2 linked regions of the Homo sapiens genome follow. The protein of the gene in region 1 purifies or fractionates together with the protein of each later gene. This does not show direct contact. Each region holds a gene or a part of one and is shown in the gene's direction. Other genes may lie near its edges.

What was found.
Region 2: the proteins of GTF2I (region 1) and ZMYM3 purify together in Homo sapiens (co-immunoprecipitation; 2 studies listed by BioGRID and IntAct, with this or other methods). This does not show direct contact.

Annotation. Positions count from the first base shown.
Region 1 is NC_000007.14:74,750,841-74,758,717, forward strand, and holds part of GTF2I (general transcription factor II-I), read left to right. Parts: intron 1-520; coding exon 521-576; intron 577-1,249; coding exon 1,250-1,330; intron 1,331-2,253; coding exon 2,254-2,337; intron 2,338-3,005; coding exon 3,006-3,189; intron 3,190-4,668; coding exon 4,669-4,697; intron 4,698-5,979; coding exon 5,980-6,021; intron 6,022-7,118; coding exon 7,119-7,160; intron 7,161-7,877. UniProt on the Homo sapiens protein: Interacts with the basal transcription machinery by coordinating the formation of a multiprotein complex at the C-FOS promoter, and linking specific signal responsive activator complexes.
Region 2 is NC_000023.11:71,243,445-71,251,321, reverse strand, and holds part of ZMYM3 (zinc finger MYM-type protein 3), read left to right. Parts: intron 1-77; coding exon 78-144; intron 145-595; coding exon 596-890; intron 891-1,118; coding exon 1,119-1,296; intron 1,297-1,642; coding exon 1,643-1,861; coding exon of another isoform or gene 1,862-1,879; exon of another isoform or gene 1,880-2,118; intron 2,119-2,152; coding exon 2,153-2,303; intron 2,304-2,520; coding exon 2,521-2,636; intron 2,637-2,797; coding exon 2,798-2,884; intron 2,885-3,009; coding exon 3,010-3,160; intron 3,161-3,415; coding exon 3,416-3,588; intron 3,589-3,811; coding exon 3,812-3,977; intron 3,978-4,629; coding exon 4,630-4,727; intron 4,728-4,809; coding exon 4,810-4,969; intron 4,970-5,223; coding exon 5,224-5,336; intron 5,337-5,479; coding exon 5,480-5,654; intron 5,655-5,836; coding exon 5,837-5,983; intron 5,984-6,428; coding exon 6,429-6,532; intron 6,533-6,851; coding exon 6,852-7,020; intron 7,021-7,341; coding exon 7,342-7,493; intron 7,494-7,877. UniProt on the Homo sapiens protein: Plays a role in the regulation of cell morphology and cytoskeletal organization.

The DNA of each region.
Region 1 (7,877 bases):
CATGATCCGCCTGCCTCGGCCTCCCAAAGTGCTGGGATTACAGGCGTGAGCCACCGCGCCCGGCCAATGGCCACCTTTTATGCTTTTGGCCAGGTCTGCAGAGGTTTGGCAGCCTCTAAGCCCTCTGCTTCTGCTTCCGGAGTGAGAGCCTCAAGTGCTCCTGTTTTCACAGCCCATCTTGTGTTTCCATGCTGCGTTTGTGGGGCGTTTTCTCTTTGCATCCTCAATTCTGGCGCTGATTCTTTTCAGGATACATTCTAACCTTGGAAAGAAGATGCCAATAAAACCAGTGTAGGGGAAGGGCAGCCAATGAGAGGCAGCAATGGATGTTAAATTTACAATTGTGGTTTGTCTTTTTGGCTGTGGTTCTTTAGATAAGCATGTGATTTCTGTTCTTCATGACTAAGAATTGAATTTAGACTTTACAGAGTTACTGGTTTGTAAATCTTTGAGTTGTTTAAATTTTAATGTTAGAGTTTTACTGTTTGATCAGCACATTTTTTTTCTCTTTTGTCTATAGGCCCGAAATGTTTGAGACGGCGATTAAGGAGAGCACCTCCTCTAAGAGCCCTCCCAGTGAGTGTATTTTCTGTATTTTCATTGCTATAGAACACACGCTCTTAGGCATGCATTGTGCAGCTGTGGTTTACAAACATTGTTTAAAGAATAGCCATTGAGGCCAGGCATGGTGGTTCACGCCTGTAATCCCAGCACTTTGGGAGGCTGAGGTGGGTGGATCACCTGAGGTCAGGAGTTTGAGACCAGCCTGGCCAACACGGCAAAACCCTGTCTCTACTAAAAATATAAAAAATTAGCCAGGCGTGGTGGCAGGCGCCTATAATCCCAGCTACTCAGGAGGCTGAGACAGCAGAATCACTTGAACCCGGGAGGCGGAAGTTGCAGTGAGCCGAGATCGCACCACTGCACTCCAGCCTGGACAACAGAGCAAGACTCATCTCAAAAAGAAAAAAGAAAACCCATTCAAAGTTGTAGTTCAGGCTATTTCACAATTTTTAGTTATTTAATAATTGGGTGGCTCTGTGAGTGTGTGATGATCTCCTAAGTACCCCCAGGAAGAGAAAAACAGTGAAAGGCAGCCCTTCAGGGGGCATCATGTCTTCTTGAAATGATCTACCATGGAAAGAAAGAACCTTGAACAGGACTGAGATAAAACAGTCTCAGACAGCATGATTATTAGAGATGTTGACCGTGTTTTCTACAAATTCTGATTTTAAATGTATATTTTCAGGAAAAATAAATTCATCACCCAATGTTAATACTACTGCATCAGGTGTTGAAGACCTTAACATCATTCAGGTGACAATTCCAGGTATGAGTTCTCTGCTTCCATCAGAGTTTTTGGGGGTCTCTTCAGGGCCTCTTGGACTTTCCCAACTAGAGAGGTTTGCTCAGCTCATCCGGGGACTCGGATACATTACACGTTGCCTGGTGCTCCTCCCAGACTCCTACAGCAGTTGCCTTCCAAATACAGTTGCTCTCCAAACAGCAACGGCAAGTTTTGGCACTTGGCATGAGCTAAATCCTGTTAACCACCCAAATGGCTAGTCTGTTCCTTAAAAAAAGTCTATATGAGACCGGGCACGGTGGCTCACGCCTGTAATCCCAGCACTTTGGGAGGCTGAGGCAGGAGGATCGCTTGAGGTCAGGAATTCAAAACCAGCCTAGCCAACGTGGTGAAACCCTGACTCTACTAAACATACAAGAAAAATTAGCCAGGCCTGGTTGTGTGTGGCTGTAATCCCAGCTACTTGGGAGGCTGAGGCAGGAGAAGTGCTTGAACCCGGGAGGTGGAGGTCGCAGTGAGCCGAGATGGGGCCAGTGCACTCCAGCCTTGGTGACAGAGCCATACTCCATCTGGGAAAAAAAAAAAATCTATATAAAACAGCAGGTAAAGGTCTTTATAACAAGAATAAATTTGTAGCATTTTTAGTTAGGCATTATTTTAAACAATTTCAAATTTAATTAGCTCAAAGTGCTCAAATACTTAAATCATTAAAAAATGGAAAATGCTTGAAAACATTACACAGAGCTCCTAAAAATTGGGATTAAAAGTGCATCATTGAGCAGCGGCTTGTACCTGTAGTCTCGGCTACTTGGGAGGCTTAGGCAGGAGGATCGCTTGAGCCCAAGAGTTCAAGGCCAGTCTGGGCAACATCGTGAGATACCATCTCTTTACCATAAAAAAAAAAAAAAGCAGTATTTAAGTTTTGGGTTTTCTCTGAACTGTTTCAGATGATGATAATGAAAGACTCTCGAAAGTTGAAAAAGCTAGACAGCTAAGAGAACAAGTGAATGACCTCTTTAGTCGGAAATTTGGTAAGTTTTGCATTTGCAAAGTACAGTTGCTATAAGCAAAGAGATTTGTTTTAATAAGATCTTTTCAGCAGATGATGGTTGGATGGTTGTAATCCTATATAAAAGGAGTTAAAATTTAAAAGTGAGTTGTTTGTGCTAAATTTATTTAATAAGATACCATTAGTGTTACACTATTGATTGTCAGTATGAAAGTTAATGAATTTAAGGTTCACCATCTGGCAGTGTGGCTCACACTTGTAATCCCAGCACTTTGGGAGCCCGAGGCAGGTGGATCAGTTGAGGCCAGGAGTTCGAGACCAGCCTGGCCAACATAGTGAAACCCTGTCTCTACTAAAAAATTCAAAAAATTAGCCGGGTATGGTGGTGCACACCTGTAATCCCAGCTACTCAGGAGGCTGTGGCACGAGAATTGCTTGAACCTGGGAGGCAGAGATTGCAGTGAGCTGAGATCAAGCCACCACACTCCAACCTGGGTGACAGAGCAAGACTCTGTCTCAAAAAAAAAAAAAATTTAAGGTTCATATTTAAATTTGTTTGAAGTGTACAAAGACCTTAGTTAACAGCAGAGACAGTCTTTAAAATAAATGTTGATCTTGTGCTTTTGACAGGCTGTTTAAGGCGGTGGGTTAATCTGTGCTGTTGTGCTGTTTGTCTCACTGTCCCTGTAGGTGAAGCTATTGGTATGGGTTTTCCTGTGAAAGTTCCCTACAGGAAAATCACAATTAACCCTGGCTGTGTGGTAGTTGATGGCATGCCCCCGGGGGTGTCCTTCAAAGCCCCCAGCTACCTGGAAATCAGCTCCATGAGAAGGATCTTAGACTCTGCCGAGTTTATCAAATTCACGGTCATTAGGTAAGTGAGAGTTTCCTGCTTAGTCACAGGAGCGAATCTGGAGCTCATGAGGCTGACTCTTCTAAAATGCAGCCACAGGTAGTCATCGAATCCGGCTTCCTATGCTGTGCAATCAACAAATCAAAATAACTTGTGTCATCATTAGAATGTCAGATGTGCTTCTACGAACTAAGCTGACTCTTTTAATTCTTTGGCAAAGGGTTGGCAAACTAGGACTGTTTGCCAAATTCAGGCTGCCTCCTATTTTTAGAGTCTTCCTGAAACACAGCTACACCCGTATTATCCATGGCTGCTTTCCTGTCACAGTGAGTAAGTAGCTGGGACTGAGAAGGCATGGCCTCCAAAGTCTAAAATATTTACTCTCTAGCACTTTGTAGAAAAACCTTAGCTAGGCACAGTGGCTAACGCCTGTAATCCCAGCATTTTGGGAGGCCAAGGCAGGCAGATCACCTGAGGTCAGGAGTTCCAGACCAGCCTGGCCAACATGGTGAAATCCCATCTCTACAAAAATAAAACAGTTAGCTGGGCATGATGGCGGGTGCCTGTAATCCCAGCTACTCGGGAGGCTGAGGCAGGATAGTCGCTTGAACCCAGGAGGTGGAGGTTGCAATGAGCCAAGATCATGCCACTGCACTCCAGCCTGGACGACAGAGTGAGACTCCATCACAAGAAAAAAAGAACTTTGTCAACCTCTGTCTTAGGGCGCCTTGTCACAGGCTTCGGGTCAGACGGATTCAACCTTGCATCAGCCATTTGTTAGCCAGGTCACTCTGTTCTTTGTCTGTAAATGAGATTGATCGTTGTTCCCACTGAGAGTGTCAGCTCCTTCCCGTAGAGCAGGCATGATGATTGTACTCACCTCTGACACCATTGTGAGTGCCACATTCCTTCCCACGTCCTTGTCACTGTAAGAGATGCCCACCTGAGCACCAACCCCAGGTTATCTTCCCCTTTGTCTTCCAGCCCCCCAGAAACAGCTACGACTCAACCTACCCAATCATTTCATCATCAGATTGCCACTGTCTCTAGTTCAGGTCTCTTGGAACTGGCACTCAGAAATCTCATAATAAATCCTCTTGAGGCTTCTCATACACTCGTCTTCTTCCAATCTTCTTTCCCTCAAAATCTCATATTTTGGTTCCACTTCACCCACCGTCATTCTCCATATCACTCCCAGGAGTTAGGCAAAAAGCCCCTTCCGTTCTTCCGTATGTTAAACTTAGAATCACTCTGTTCCCTGCTCTGCGTTTCTATTTTTTGTTTTTCCTCCATTTACTAGTAGCTTAACACTTTCTAACAGTGTTCTTATTATTGATACGTATCTATCTCTTCCATAAGCTTATAAGGTCACGGATAATACTTCTCATTGTAGTACGTAAATGACGTGGGCTAGATATGAGTTGAATAAACAGTTATACCTGTAAATTCTTACAGAGTGAAAATAAATTGTTATACTTTACAATTTGTTTCTCTCTTTAGACCATTTCCAGGACTTGTGATTAATAACCGTGAGTATTTTGTGAAGTGTTTTGTTTTTGTTTTTTCCTGGGGTCTGACGTGTGTGCGTGTGAGTGTGTATACATGCTTAACGTATATCACGTTACTTCACCTATGTCAGTAACCAGGCCAAATACTTGTTTTAGCCCTCAGTAAAAACACCAGGCACTTCCTAGTTGTAAAATTATTCAAGCTTCTTAACTTCCTATCCTCGATGCACTTAATCATAAAATGGTAATAATAGCACCGATTTTGGGGGAGTCGTTCCAGTAGATGGAAAGCATCTGGAACAGGTGTCAGCAAGCTCCTGCCGACGTGTATGCATAAAGTTTTATTGAAACCACCATCGTGTCCATTTGTTTATGGCAGAACTGAGAGATGGCAGCAGCAAGTGTGTGCCTGCAAAACCTAAAATATTTACTAATTGGCTCTGCAAGAAAAGAGTTTGCATCCCCCTAACCTAGAACAGTGTCTAGCCTCTAGTATGTGTTTAGCCTACAGTATGTGCTCAGCGAATACAATCTATATTTATTACTGCTTTTATGACTGTTATAATTACTGTGCTTGGATTTCGTTACAAAGTAAGTCACAATGTGCCTGCTTCTGTTAGTATTTCAGCACAGTGCCTGGCACACATGGGGCTCTCAAATATTGCTGAGCGAGTGAACAAATGTCCTTTCAATTCCTTAACGTTGATGTCATTTTCAATAGTATTTTGAGCCAAACTTAATTTTGCGAGTGTGTTTTGTTTTCTTAACTTTATTATTAAAAATGTATAAAAGTGAGGCCAGGCGTGGTGGCTCACGCCTGTAATCCCAGCAGTTTGGGAGGCTGAGGCAGGCGGATCAGTTGAGGTTGGGAGTTGGAGACCAGCCCGTCCAACATGGTGAAAGCCTGTCTCTACTAAAAATACAAAAATCAGCTGGGTGTGGTGGCACGTGCCTGTAATCCCAGCTACTCAGGAGGCTGAGGCAGGAGAGTTGCTTGAATCCTAGAGGTGGAGGTTGCAGTGAGCTGAGATCGTGCCATTGCACTCCAGCCTGGGCAACAAGAGCAAAACTCTGTCCCAATAAATAAATAAATAAAATGTTCTCTTTTGTTCCTGTTCTTGTGCGGTAGTGTGGTATAGAGTTTTATGGTAATTACTGTGAATTAGTGATTCTGAGGGACATATCAGAACTCTGAGGTTTGTTTCCTTCTCATCTTGAGGGAAACAGCAAATGTATGTTAAAATGCTTTTCCAAGGGAACAACACATCCTTACATTATTTAAACCAATCTGCTTCATTTTCAGAGCTGGTTGATCAGAGTGAGTCAGAAGGCCCCGTGATACAAGGTGAGCGAGGCAGGGGAGGGCCCGGAGCTACTCCTGCCTGCACAGTGGCACAATGGCGTGCCTGCGTGTGGCTTTGGCTCTCAGTCACCTGCCCTGAGGGGACTCAGTTACACAGCACACACATGCTTCTCTGTGGTTTTCACTCCTGGGTTTGACAGCTGATCAAAACATAAATTCAAGCTGTGGGTCCTGATTGAGAACTGGGGGCTGCAGACCATTTGCACCCCCTATCCCAGCTCAGGCCTAACATCAGGAACCCCAGGATTAATGGGTAGGATGAAATGGCAGAGCAAGAGGGCCGTCACTTTAACCTGACTCTGCCATCCATTTCTAATGTCTGCCATAAGTCAGTGAGCAAAATGTTCTTCAGTAGAAATGTACACATTGTGCTCTTAAAAAATTCCTTAAAAAACAAGTGGAATGGCCTGGTGCTGTGTGAGTCATTGAAAGTAATGAGACTGGGCGCGGTGGCTCACGCCTGTTATCCCAGCACTTTGGAAGGCTGAGAAGGGTAGATCACTTGAGATCAGGAGTTCGAGACCAGCCTGGCCAACATGGTGCAACCCCGTCTCTACTAAGAATACAAAAACTAGCCAGACGTGGTGGCGTGTGCCGGCTACTCAGGAGGCTGAGGCAGGAGAACCGCTTGAGCCTGGGAGGCGGAGGTCGCAGTGAGCCAAGATCGTGCCACTGCACTCCAGCCTGGGCAACAGAAAGGAGATTCTGTCTCAAAAAAACAAACATACGAAGAAAAACAAAAAAAGTAATGAAAAGCTTTTATTAAAGGGAGTAAACAGAAGGATAAGGGAGAAAGCATAACTAAGGAGCTTGTTTTCATGGTAGAGCTATGTTAAGACTCTGCTCTTTCAAACTTCAGTTGCATATGTGAACTTAGGACCACATTTGAAAAACAGAAATTTGAAAGTACACTTGGATAATCGTGTGCTCCATCTCAAGACCGTGAGCATTGTTTCATCATGCACCTGTGTTTGTACAGAGTCTAGAGGGCTTTTCTCCTCTTCCTCCTCCTGGGTTCTTTACATAGTATAAAGCAGCTGTTGAACAATGTGGAAATCAGTCTCTGTGTTTCTCTTTAGAATCAGCTGAACCAAGCCAGTTGGAAGTTCCAGCCACAGAAGGTAAAAGGGTGGGGTGGTCCTGCAAGTCCTTAAGACTTCTTCTTTCTTCTTCTTCTTTTTTTTTTTTTTAAAGACAGAGACTTGCTCTGTCACCCAGGGTGGAGTGAGGTTGCGCGATCTCTGCAACCTCCGCCTCCCGGGCTCAAGCAGTTCTCCTGCCTCAGCCTCCCGAGTAGCTGGGATTACAGGCCTGCACCACCATGCTTGGCTAATTTTTGTATTTTTAGTAGAAACGGGGTTTCACCATGTTGGCCAGGCTAGTCTCAGACTTCTGACCTCAAGTGATCCGCCAGCCTTGGCCTCCAAAGTGCTCGGATTACAGGCGCGAGCCACCTTGCCCAGCCAAGACTTTTTTATCAGGACAAAGGATTGTGCATTTAAACTATTTCACTAGAACTGGGTGGTGGTTTTGCTCTCTTTCTTCTGGGTGAATTGGATTTGCAGGTTATGCTGTTGAGTGATGACGCATAGCTGCTTTTGCTCCATTTCCCCCAGATGACTTGGTAAATTCTCCGTGAATGACTCTGCTACATAACCTAGATAACCTAACGTGTGTCCTTTAAATGCATGTAAGCCAGAAGATGTATGTTACTTTGAAAACATAAGTAACAAAATTTTGAATGTATTGCTAAAGAGATGTCTCTCTGAAGCTCTTTTGATGTTTGGTGTCTTGTCCTTCTTATTAAACCATATCTTAGTAAATAGTTTGGTACGAAT
Region 2 (7,877 bases), on another chromosome or scaffold:
CCCCCCCCAAACCCTGTACTAGTGTTAGCCTGGCCAGGGTGTCAGTTTTCCTCCCCTCCCATCTTTCCGAGGTACAGAAGAGAAGCGAGCGCGTTAGGAGAGCAGAACCTCCAAAACCTGAGGTTGTAGATTCCACTGAGAGCAGTAAGTAGGATTTGAGGAAGTGTGACCTGGGAGTTCTGGGTGTGGAAAAGGTCCGAAAGTGGCATGCGGCAGGGCATGGATCTTCTAGCTCCTGCCGTCCTGCTCCATGAAGCGCATGAAGTGCCTGTCTCTGCTATGGGTTGGCATGGGAACCAGGGGCAGTGGGGGAAATTGAAAACAAGAGCAGTGAGAATGGCGAGTTTCCTGTTTCAGCTATGCCATCTCTGTCTCCGAATCTTCTCATTTAGAGCCTCTCCCTTTCCCTCCCTGGGAGGTTACAGAGTAACCAAGGGAGAGAGACACCAAGGTCTTAAGATACTGATGTAACAAGGGCCAGGGTGTAAAGGCCGGAACAACAGGGATCCCAGGAGAGGGACTGAACTGTTGGTCAGGGGATGGTTGGAGACCTGGTTTGGTGGCCTTTCTCATGTCCATCCCCCCACTTTCTCAGTTCCAGTGTCAGATGAGGATTCTGATGCCATGGTAGATGACCCCAATGATGAGGACTTTGTGCCATTCCGGCCCCGGCGCTCTCCTCGCATGTCCCTACGCTCAAGTGTGTCACAAAGGGCCGGGCGCTCTGCAGTGGGCACCAAGATGACTTGTGCACATTGCCGGACACCACTGCAGAAGGGGCAGACTGCCTATCAGCGCAAGGGGCTGCCTCAGCTCTTCTGCTCGTCATCCTGCCTCACCACTTTCTCCAAGAAGCCCTCGGGCAAAAAGACCTGTACCTTCTGCAAGAAGTGCGTGAGGGTCTTGGGGGCTATGCAGAGGGCAGGGATCTGGGCAGGAGTATGAGTAAGACAGAGACTGTTGGTAAGAACCTAGCAGGATGGAGCTGGGCGAGAGAGTGATGTAGGGAGAGAGTCAGAGTATTTGGCTCTGTGGTCATTGATCCTGGAGGAGGGGCGGAAGCTGAGGAAATGAGAGGGTGGTCTTGAGTGAATATTCAAACCTGTTCCCACCTCTAGGGAGATCTGGAACACCAAGGACTCGGTTGTGGCGCAGACTGGTTCTGGAGGCTCCTTCCATGAGTTCTGCACATCCGTCTGTCTCTCCCTGTATGAGGCCCAGCAGCAGCGCCCGATCCCCCAGTCTGGGGATCCCGCCGACGCTACTCGCTGCAGCATATGCCAGAAGACTGGAGAGGTGAGGACACTCAGTGGGGGCTGATTTACAGAGCCTGGCCAGCCCTGACCTGCCCCTCCCATCCTGGGGCTGCAGGGTCCAGGCCCTGTGGAAAGGGGAGTGGGGAGGAAAGGCGGCCATCATGAGGGAGCGTATTCAAGGACAGAGCTTCTCCAGGATGTGCACAGCTGGCCTTCCTTACCTCCCAGGACCTCACCATCAAGTCGGCAGCCTGCGGCGCAGGTTGGGGGGTCCCTGGGCCCACTGTCTGCTGTGAAGGTCTAGGGTGAGGTGGGGGGCTGACCTTGCATTGGGGTGGGCGGTGGTGGCCAGGCCCTAGCTCAGGGTGCGTGTATGTGTGTGGCAGGTCCTGCACGAGGTCAGCAATGGCAGCGTGGTACACCGGCTCTGCAGCGATTCTTGCTTCTCCAAATTCCGGGCCAACAAGGGACTGAAAACCAACTGTTGTGACCAGTGTGGGGCTTACATCTACACCAAGACCGGGAGTCCTGGCCCTGAGCTCCTCTTCCACGAGGGCCAACAAAAGCGGTTCTGCAACACAACCTGCTTGGGGGCGTACAAGAAGGTGGGGCCGAGGGAGTAGTGCATTAGAGGGCTGTGGAAGGGGGTGTGGTTCTTGGGTTATAAATAAAGGTGGCTGATGGGTCAAGGGCTGGGAGAAATAAAACAAATAAAGGGGGTTTCAATTGTATCCGTTATGTTTTATTTTTGAAGCTGGCTGGTGGATACACAGGTCTTTGTTACATCATCATCTATACTTTTTTTGTATGCCTGAAATATTTCATGTTTAAAACATTTAAAAAATAAAAGTGAAGGGACAAATCCAGCCTCAGCCTCTCCTTCCCCATCCTCACAGAAAAACACACGTGTGTACCCATGTGTCTGGTGCAAGACCCTGTGTAAGAACTTTGAGATGCTATCACATGTGGATCGTAATGGCAAGACCAGCTTGTTCTGTTCCCTGTGCTGTACCACTTCTTACAAAGTGAAGCAGGCAGGGCTCACTGGTAGGTGCAAAGCCCTCTTCTCTGAGTCCCCTGCTGGCCTTCTCTCTACCTCCCATACTCCCCTCTTCCAGAGTAATCCTTGCTGCCCGACCTCAGTCCCAACCACATCTCCCCATGGATTTTCTGTTCGTCTCTTACACTGCCTTACACCTTCTGTGTGCTCTCTCTCTCCCTCTCTCTTTCTCTTTTCCTCTCTCTCTTTCTCTCTATGCCCCAGGCCCTCCCCGACCCTGCAGCTTCTGCCGCCGCAGCCTCTCTGACCCCTGTTACTACAACAAGGTTGACCGCACAGTCTACCAGTTCTGCAGCCCCAGCTGCTGGACCAAGTTCCAGGTACTCCAGACCCTGGACCAGGGATAGAAGGGTTTGGCAACATAAAGAGGGTTGGAGAATTGGGGTAGGCAGGCCTGGGCAGAGCAAAGAACAAGCCTGACTCCCCTTCCCCACCGCTGCACACATCTTGCCCCTCCCTTACTTGTCTTCCTTCCCTCCAGCGCACAAGCCCTGAGGGGGGCATTCACCTGAGCTGTCACTACTGTCACAGCCTCTTCAGTGGCAAGCCTGAGGTCTTGGACTGGCAGGTAAGAGCCCCACCCCCACCCACGTCTTGCCACACGACCAGACTGTCTGAAGGGGTCCTTCCACTTGGCCCCTGCTGGGGCCAGATGTTACAGCTTGTCCTCCCTGCCCTGTGCCCCCACCTCAGGACCAAGTGTTCCAGTTCTGCTGCCGTGATTGCTGTGAGGACTTCAAGCGGCTTCGGGGTGTGGTGTCCCAGTGTGAGCACTGTCGGCAGGAGAAACTCTTGCATGAGAAACTCCGATTCAGCGGAGTGGAGAAAAGCTTCTGCAGCGAAGGTAAGGAGATGGGGAAGGGCAGAAGACACTATAACTCCCAGCCAGGGAGAATGGAGGAGAAGGGAGGGAGGCCGGGAAAGTGGTCCATGAGGCAGGGCCTTCTGCCCGGGATGTTCTACCCCCATCTCCCCTAAAGTTTTGGGCACAAGGGGCTGCTTAGAGAGAGGTTTCAGGTATAGCACCTTGAAAAGGTTGGGTCTCTTGCCCTTGGGTATCTGTGTCTCTGGACTCTCTTTCCTCTTCTCCTCTTTCCAGGCTGTGTGCTGCTGTACAAACAGGACTTCACTAAGAAGCTGGGCTTGTGCTGTATCACTTGTACTTACTGCTCCCAGACCTGCCAGCGCGGAGTCACCGAGCAACTGGATGGCAGCACCTGGGACTTCTGCAGTGAGGACTGTAAGAGCAAGTACCTGCTGTGGTACTGCAAGGTAAGGAGGGTCAGCATGCGAGCGAGGCGGGAAAGAGGGCAGTGGGGAGCACGGGCTGTGGTACTGAGCTCGGGGTGTGGACAGATCTCCAGGGAGGGCAGCCAGCCTTCCATCTCTAAGCTGGCCCGATCTCCAAGGGGAGGAGCATGGCTTATCCCGGGGGAAAGAAAGGGCCCAACGCATTTTAGGGAGGCAGGTCTGACCATCCTTTTGACATCCTCAGGCTGCCCGGTGCCATGCGTGTAAGCGCCAGGGGAAGCTGCTGGAGACCATCCACTGGCGTGGGCAGATCCGTCATTTCTGCAACCAGCAGTGTCTTCTGCGTTTCTATAGCCAGCAGAACCAACCCAACCTGGATACCCAGAGTGGGCCCGAGAGCCTCCTGAACAGTGAGTCCCAGGCAGGGGGTACACTCTGTTAGAGGGAGCCTGGACTCTCCTAATCCTAAGCCTAGCCCCTTTCTCCTTCCTCTTGCGTTCAGCTCACCCCTGGCCAGATAGGGTGCTAGTACTGTGAACTGTATTCTCTTTTAGCTTCCGAACCCTGCAGGTACCGGGGGAGTCTTATTTAAAGCTTCTTGGAGTTAGCATCTACTGATTGTCTATGAAATATATATTGTTAGGGAGTGGGTGCCTTTCCTGGTAGGATGGAGCATATAGGGGTTATGGTTACGTTTCTGAGATAAGGAAATCTCAGCATAAACTCTACATTTAGTGAGACTGAAGACTGCTATTTCTAGAATGTTACCCCTGCCCCTCCACAACTCCAGGGATAACAGACTCTTCAGGCTATCTAAGTGGAAGGTCTCAAATGTGGGTTTTGGGGGAAAATGTAATGTTTCATTCTCCAGGAACAAATAATCTTTTAGGCTGCTATTGCTGGGGCATAGAGGAGACTAGATCTGGGATGGCAAGGGGGTCAAATCCTAGAAGTTCCCATCTGTATTTGGTGTACCTGTTAATGAAGCTCTCCTGGAACAGGGGTAAGGAAAATGGAGAGCTAGTCCCTTGGATGAGAGCATTCATTTGTTTTGATCTACAGGTCAGTCTCCTGAGTCAAAACCCCAGACACCCTCTCAAACCAAAGTGGAGAACAGCAACACAGTGAGGACCCCAGAGGAAAATGGGAATTTGGGCAAGGTCGGGGCAAAAGCCAAGGGGGAGGATAATCTCAGAGGAGGGTACGGCGGTTGGTGGCACAAATGTTCCTCTGTCTTTGCAGATCCCTGTGAAGACCCGATCAGCTCCCACTGCTCCCACCCCTCCACCCCCACCACCCCCAGCAACACCCCGCAAAAACAAGGCTGCCATGTGTAAGCCACTGATGCAGAATCGGGGCGTCTCCTGCAAGGTGGAGATGAAGTCCAAAGGAAGTCAAACAGGTGAGCCAGGGTACCTCGATGCCACAGGCTGTATTCCAGAGTCCTAGGCCTGCCAGCCCTATGTCCGTGAGCTGGACAAGGGGATTTCTTAGGTAGCTGAAGCCTCATTCATATGGTTGTCCTAGAATCATAGAGGTGTCTTTCAGCCTTTGATTCAAGGGCAGTTTTGTGACACTGAGCATGTTAGAGCTTTTGGTGGGTCAGATGTGACCAGTCCAGCAGGGTCTCTGAGAAGACCCCTTTCTTATCCACAGAAGAGTGGAAGCCACAGGTGATCGTGCTGCCCATCCCAGTGCCCATCTTCGTGCCAGTGCCTATGCATCTGTACTGCCAGAAAGTCCCGGTGCCTTTCTCGATGCCTATCCCGGTGAGTTTCCCTGCCCTTCCTGGCTGGGTCCTCCTTTCCCCTTACTCTCATCAACTGTCCCCCTTCACTCATCATCTGTCCCCCCAACTTCCCCCCAACTGCTGGTGTGGTTCTTGGCATTTAGTTGGGATTCGTGCCTCCAGGTGCCTGTGCCCATGTTCTTGCCCACTACCTTGGAGAGCACAGACAAGATTGTAGAGACCATTGAGGAGCTGAAGGTGAAGATCCCTTCCAACCCCTTGGAGGCCGACATCCTGGCTATGGCAGAAATGATTGCAGAGGCTGAGGAGTTAGACAAGGCCTCATCTGACCTTTGTGGTATGCCATAGATGGTGGCGACGAGGGAGACAGGGTGCTACCAGCATGTCTCTGCCCGAGGGGGTGGTATTGGTGATCTTGGTGCCTAGTAGAATGGGAGGATAGTTGGGATCAGTCCCTGAAAGCTTGTGAGGGTGCTAGCAGGAGCTTGTAACCACTGAGCCAACTTCTCTGCTTCCCAGATCTTGTGAGCAACCAGAGTGCAGAGGGACTCCTGGAAGACTGTGACCTGTTTGGGCCTGCTCGAGATGATGTCCTGGCCATGGCAGTCAAGATGGCCAATGTCTTGGATGAGCCTGGGCAAGACTTGGAGGCAGACTTCCCTAAGAGTGAGTAAGATTGGAGCCATGCCCACTGAGTATGGTAGCATTTGTGCCATCAGGAAGGGAGTGTCCCTTGTGTCCCTGAGCATGACCCTGAAAAGTGTTCATTGTGATTCTAAGACGGAAGGTTCTCACAGGGAGCAGTGCCAGAGACACCAGGACAGGTGCACTCTTTTAGACTTCTGAGTCATGCTTTTTTTTTTTTTTTTTTTTTTTTAATTTTTAAGCTGAAAAAAAACATAAAATTTTACCATGTTCAACATGTTTACGGTTCAGTAGTTCACATTGCTGTGTTTTGCGTTTCTGTGCCTCTGAGCATGCTTTTTGGTATAGCTTTACTGGTTCCTTTGGCTCATCTAGTGTCAAGTGGGCAAGTAGCAGGGGTGGGGCAGGAGGGCTGCAGGGTTGAGATCTTAAGAAATTGATTTCTTCTTTCTTTCCTTTTCATTAGATCCTCTGGACATTAATCCCAGTGTAGACTTCCTCTTTGATTGTGGCCTGGTAGGGCCTGAGGATGTGTCTACTGAACAAGACCTTCCCCGAACCATGAGGAAGGTAGGGCTGGGGCTACTGTATGTACAAAAGAAGAATGGAGGCCCAAAGGGGAGATGATGCGAGAGCCAAGCCAGCAACCATAGTTTGACCTTCCCTAACCTCCTTTCTCCAACACTAGAAGTACTGAGATAAAGCCAAACTTTGCTCTCCCCCCATCTCACAAGGTCATCAAAGCTGTTCCTGGGGCTCTGTGCTATGGAAGCTTGCTGTGTGCTTACATCAGCCCCTGCCCCGGCCAGCAGTAAATATGGTGCTGACTAGCTTTCACCTTGCCTCTGGCCTTACCTCTGCCATGCCCCTGCTTTCTCTTCCCCTCCAGGGTCAAAAGCGGCTGGTGCTTTCCGAAAGCTGCTCCCGGGACTCCATGAGCAGTCAGCCTAGTTGTACCGGGCTCAACTATTCATATGGTGTCAATGCTTGGAAGTGCTGGGTGCAGTCAAAATATGCCAATGGAGAAACCAGCAAGGGTGATGAGCTGCGCTTTGGCCGTAAGTACTTGGGGATGGGGGGTGTGGGGAGGCAGGGACAGGGAGGAGGAGGGGAAAGGGGAGAAGGGGCTGGGCCTGTGATTCAGCTGAAGATGTCTAGAAGTGATAAGGGTGTGATCCCTTAAGGATGCCCTGTGAAGATGGGGAGGAGTTGTAGATTAAAGGGAAATGCTGTCTAGGTTCCAGGTTAGGGGCTCTTTCTGTAATTGTTCAGGAGCTAGGCATGACTAAGGGATGGAGGGGTTAATGGTGATGGAGCTAAGTGAAATTCTCCATGTAGAGTTTTTCTTAATCCTGTCCCTGCACAACATATCACTGCAGCCAAACCCATGCGTATCAAAGAGGATATTCTCGCCTGCTCAGCTGCTGAGCTCAACTACGGTCTGGCCCAGTTTGTGAGAGAAATCACTCGGCCCAATGGTGAACGATATGAACCTGACAGTATCTACTATTTGTGTCTTGGCATCCAGCAGGTACCTCTTGTGCACCACCTCACTTCCTGTCACTCTTAACACAGCAGGCAGGGTCTAAACAGAAATGATTCTGGGTTAGGCACGGTGGCTCACGCCTGTAATCCCAACACTTTGGGAGGCTGAGGCAGGAGGATCGCTTCAAGCCAGGAGTTTGAGACCAGCCTGGGCAACAAAGTGATACCCATCTACCCAAAAAATATTTTTTTAATGAAAAAAAAAAGCAGTTATTCTGTTGCACTCCCTGTTCCTCATCTTGTCCCCTACCTGAAGCAGGCAGCTTGCCTTTAATCTCCTACTCCAAATAGAACATGAGATATCAATACTCTTCTAAAATCAAAACTGCATTCCAGGACCGTTGGCCAAGGAGCAGTCTTCATTGCTATC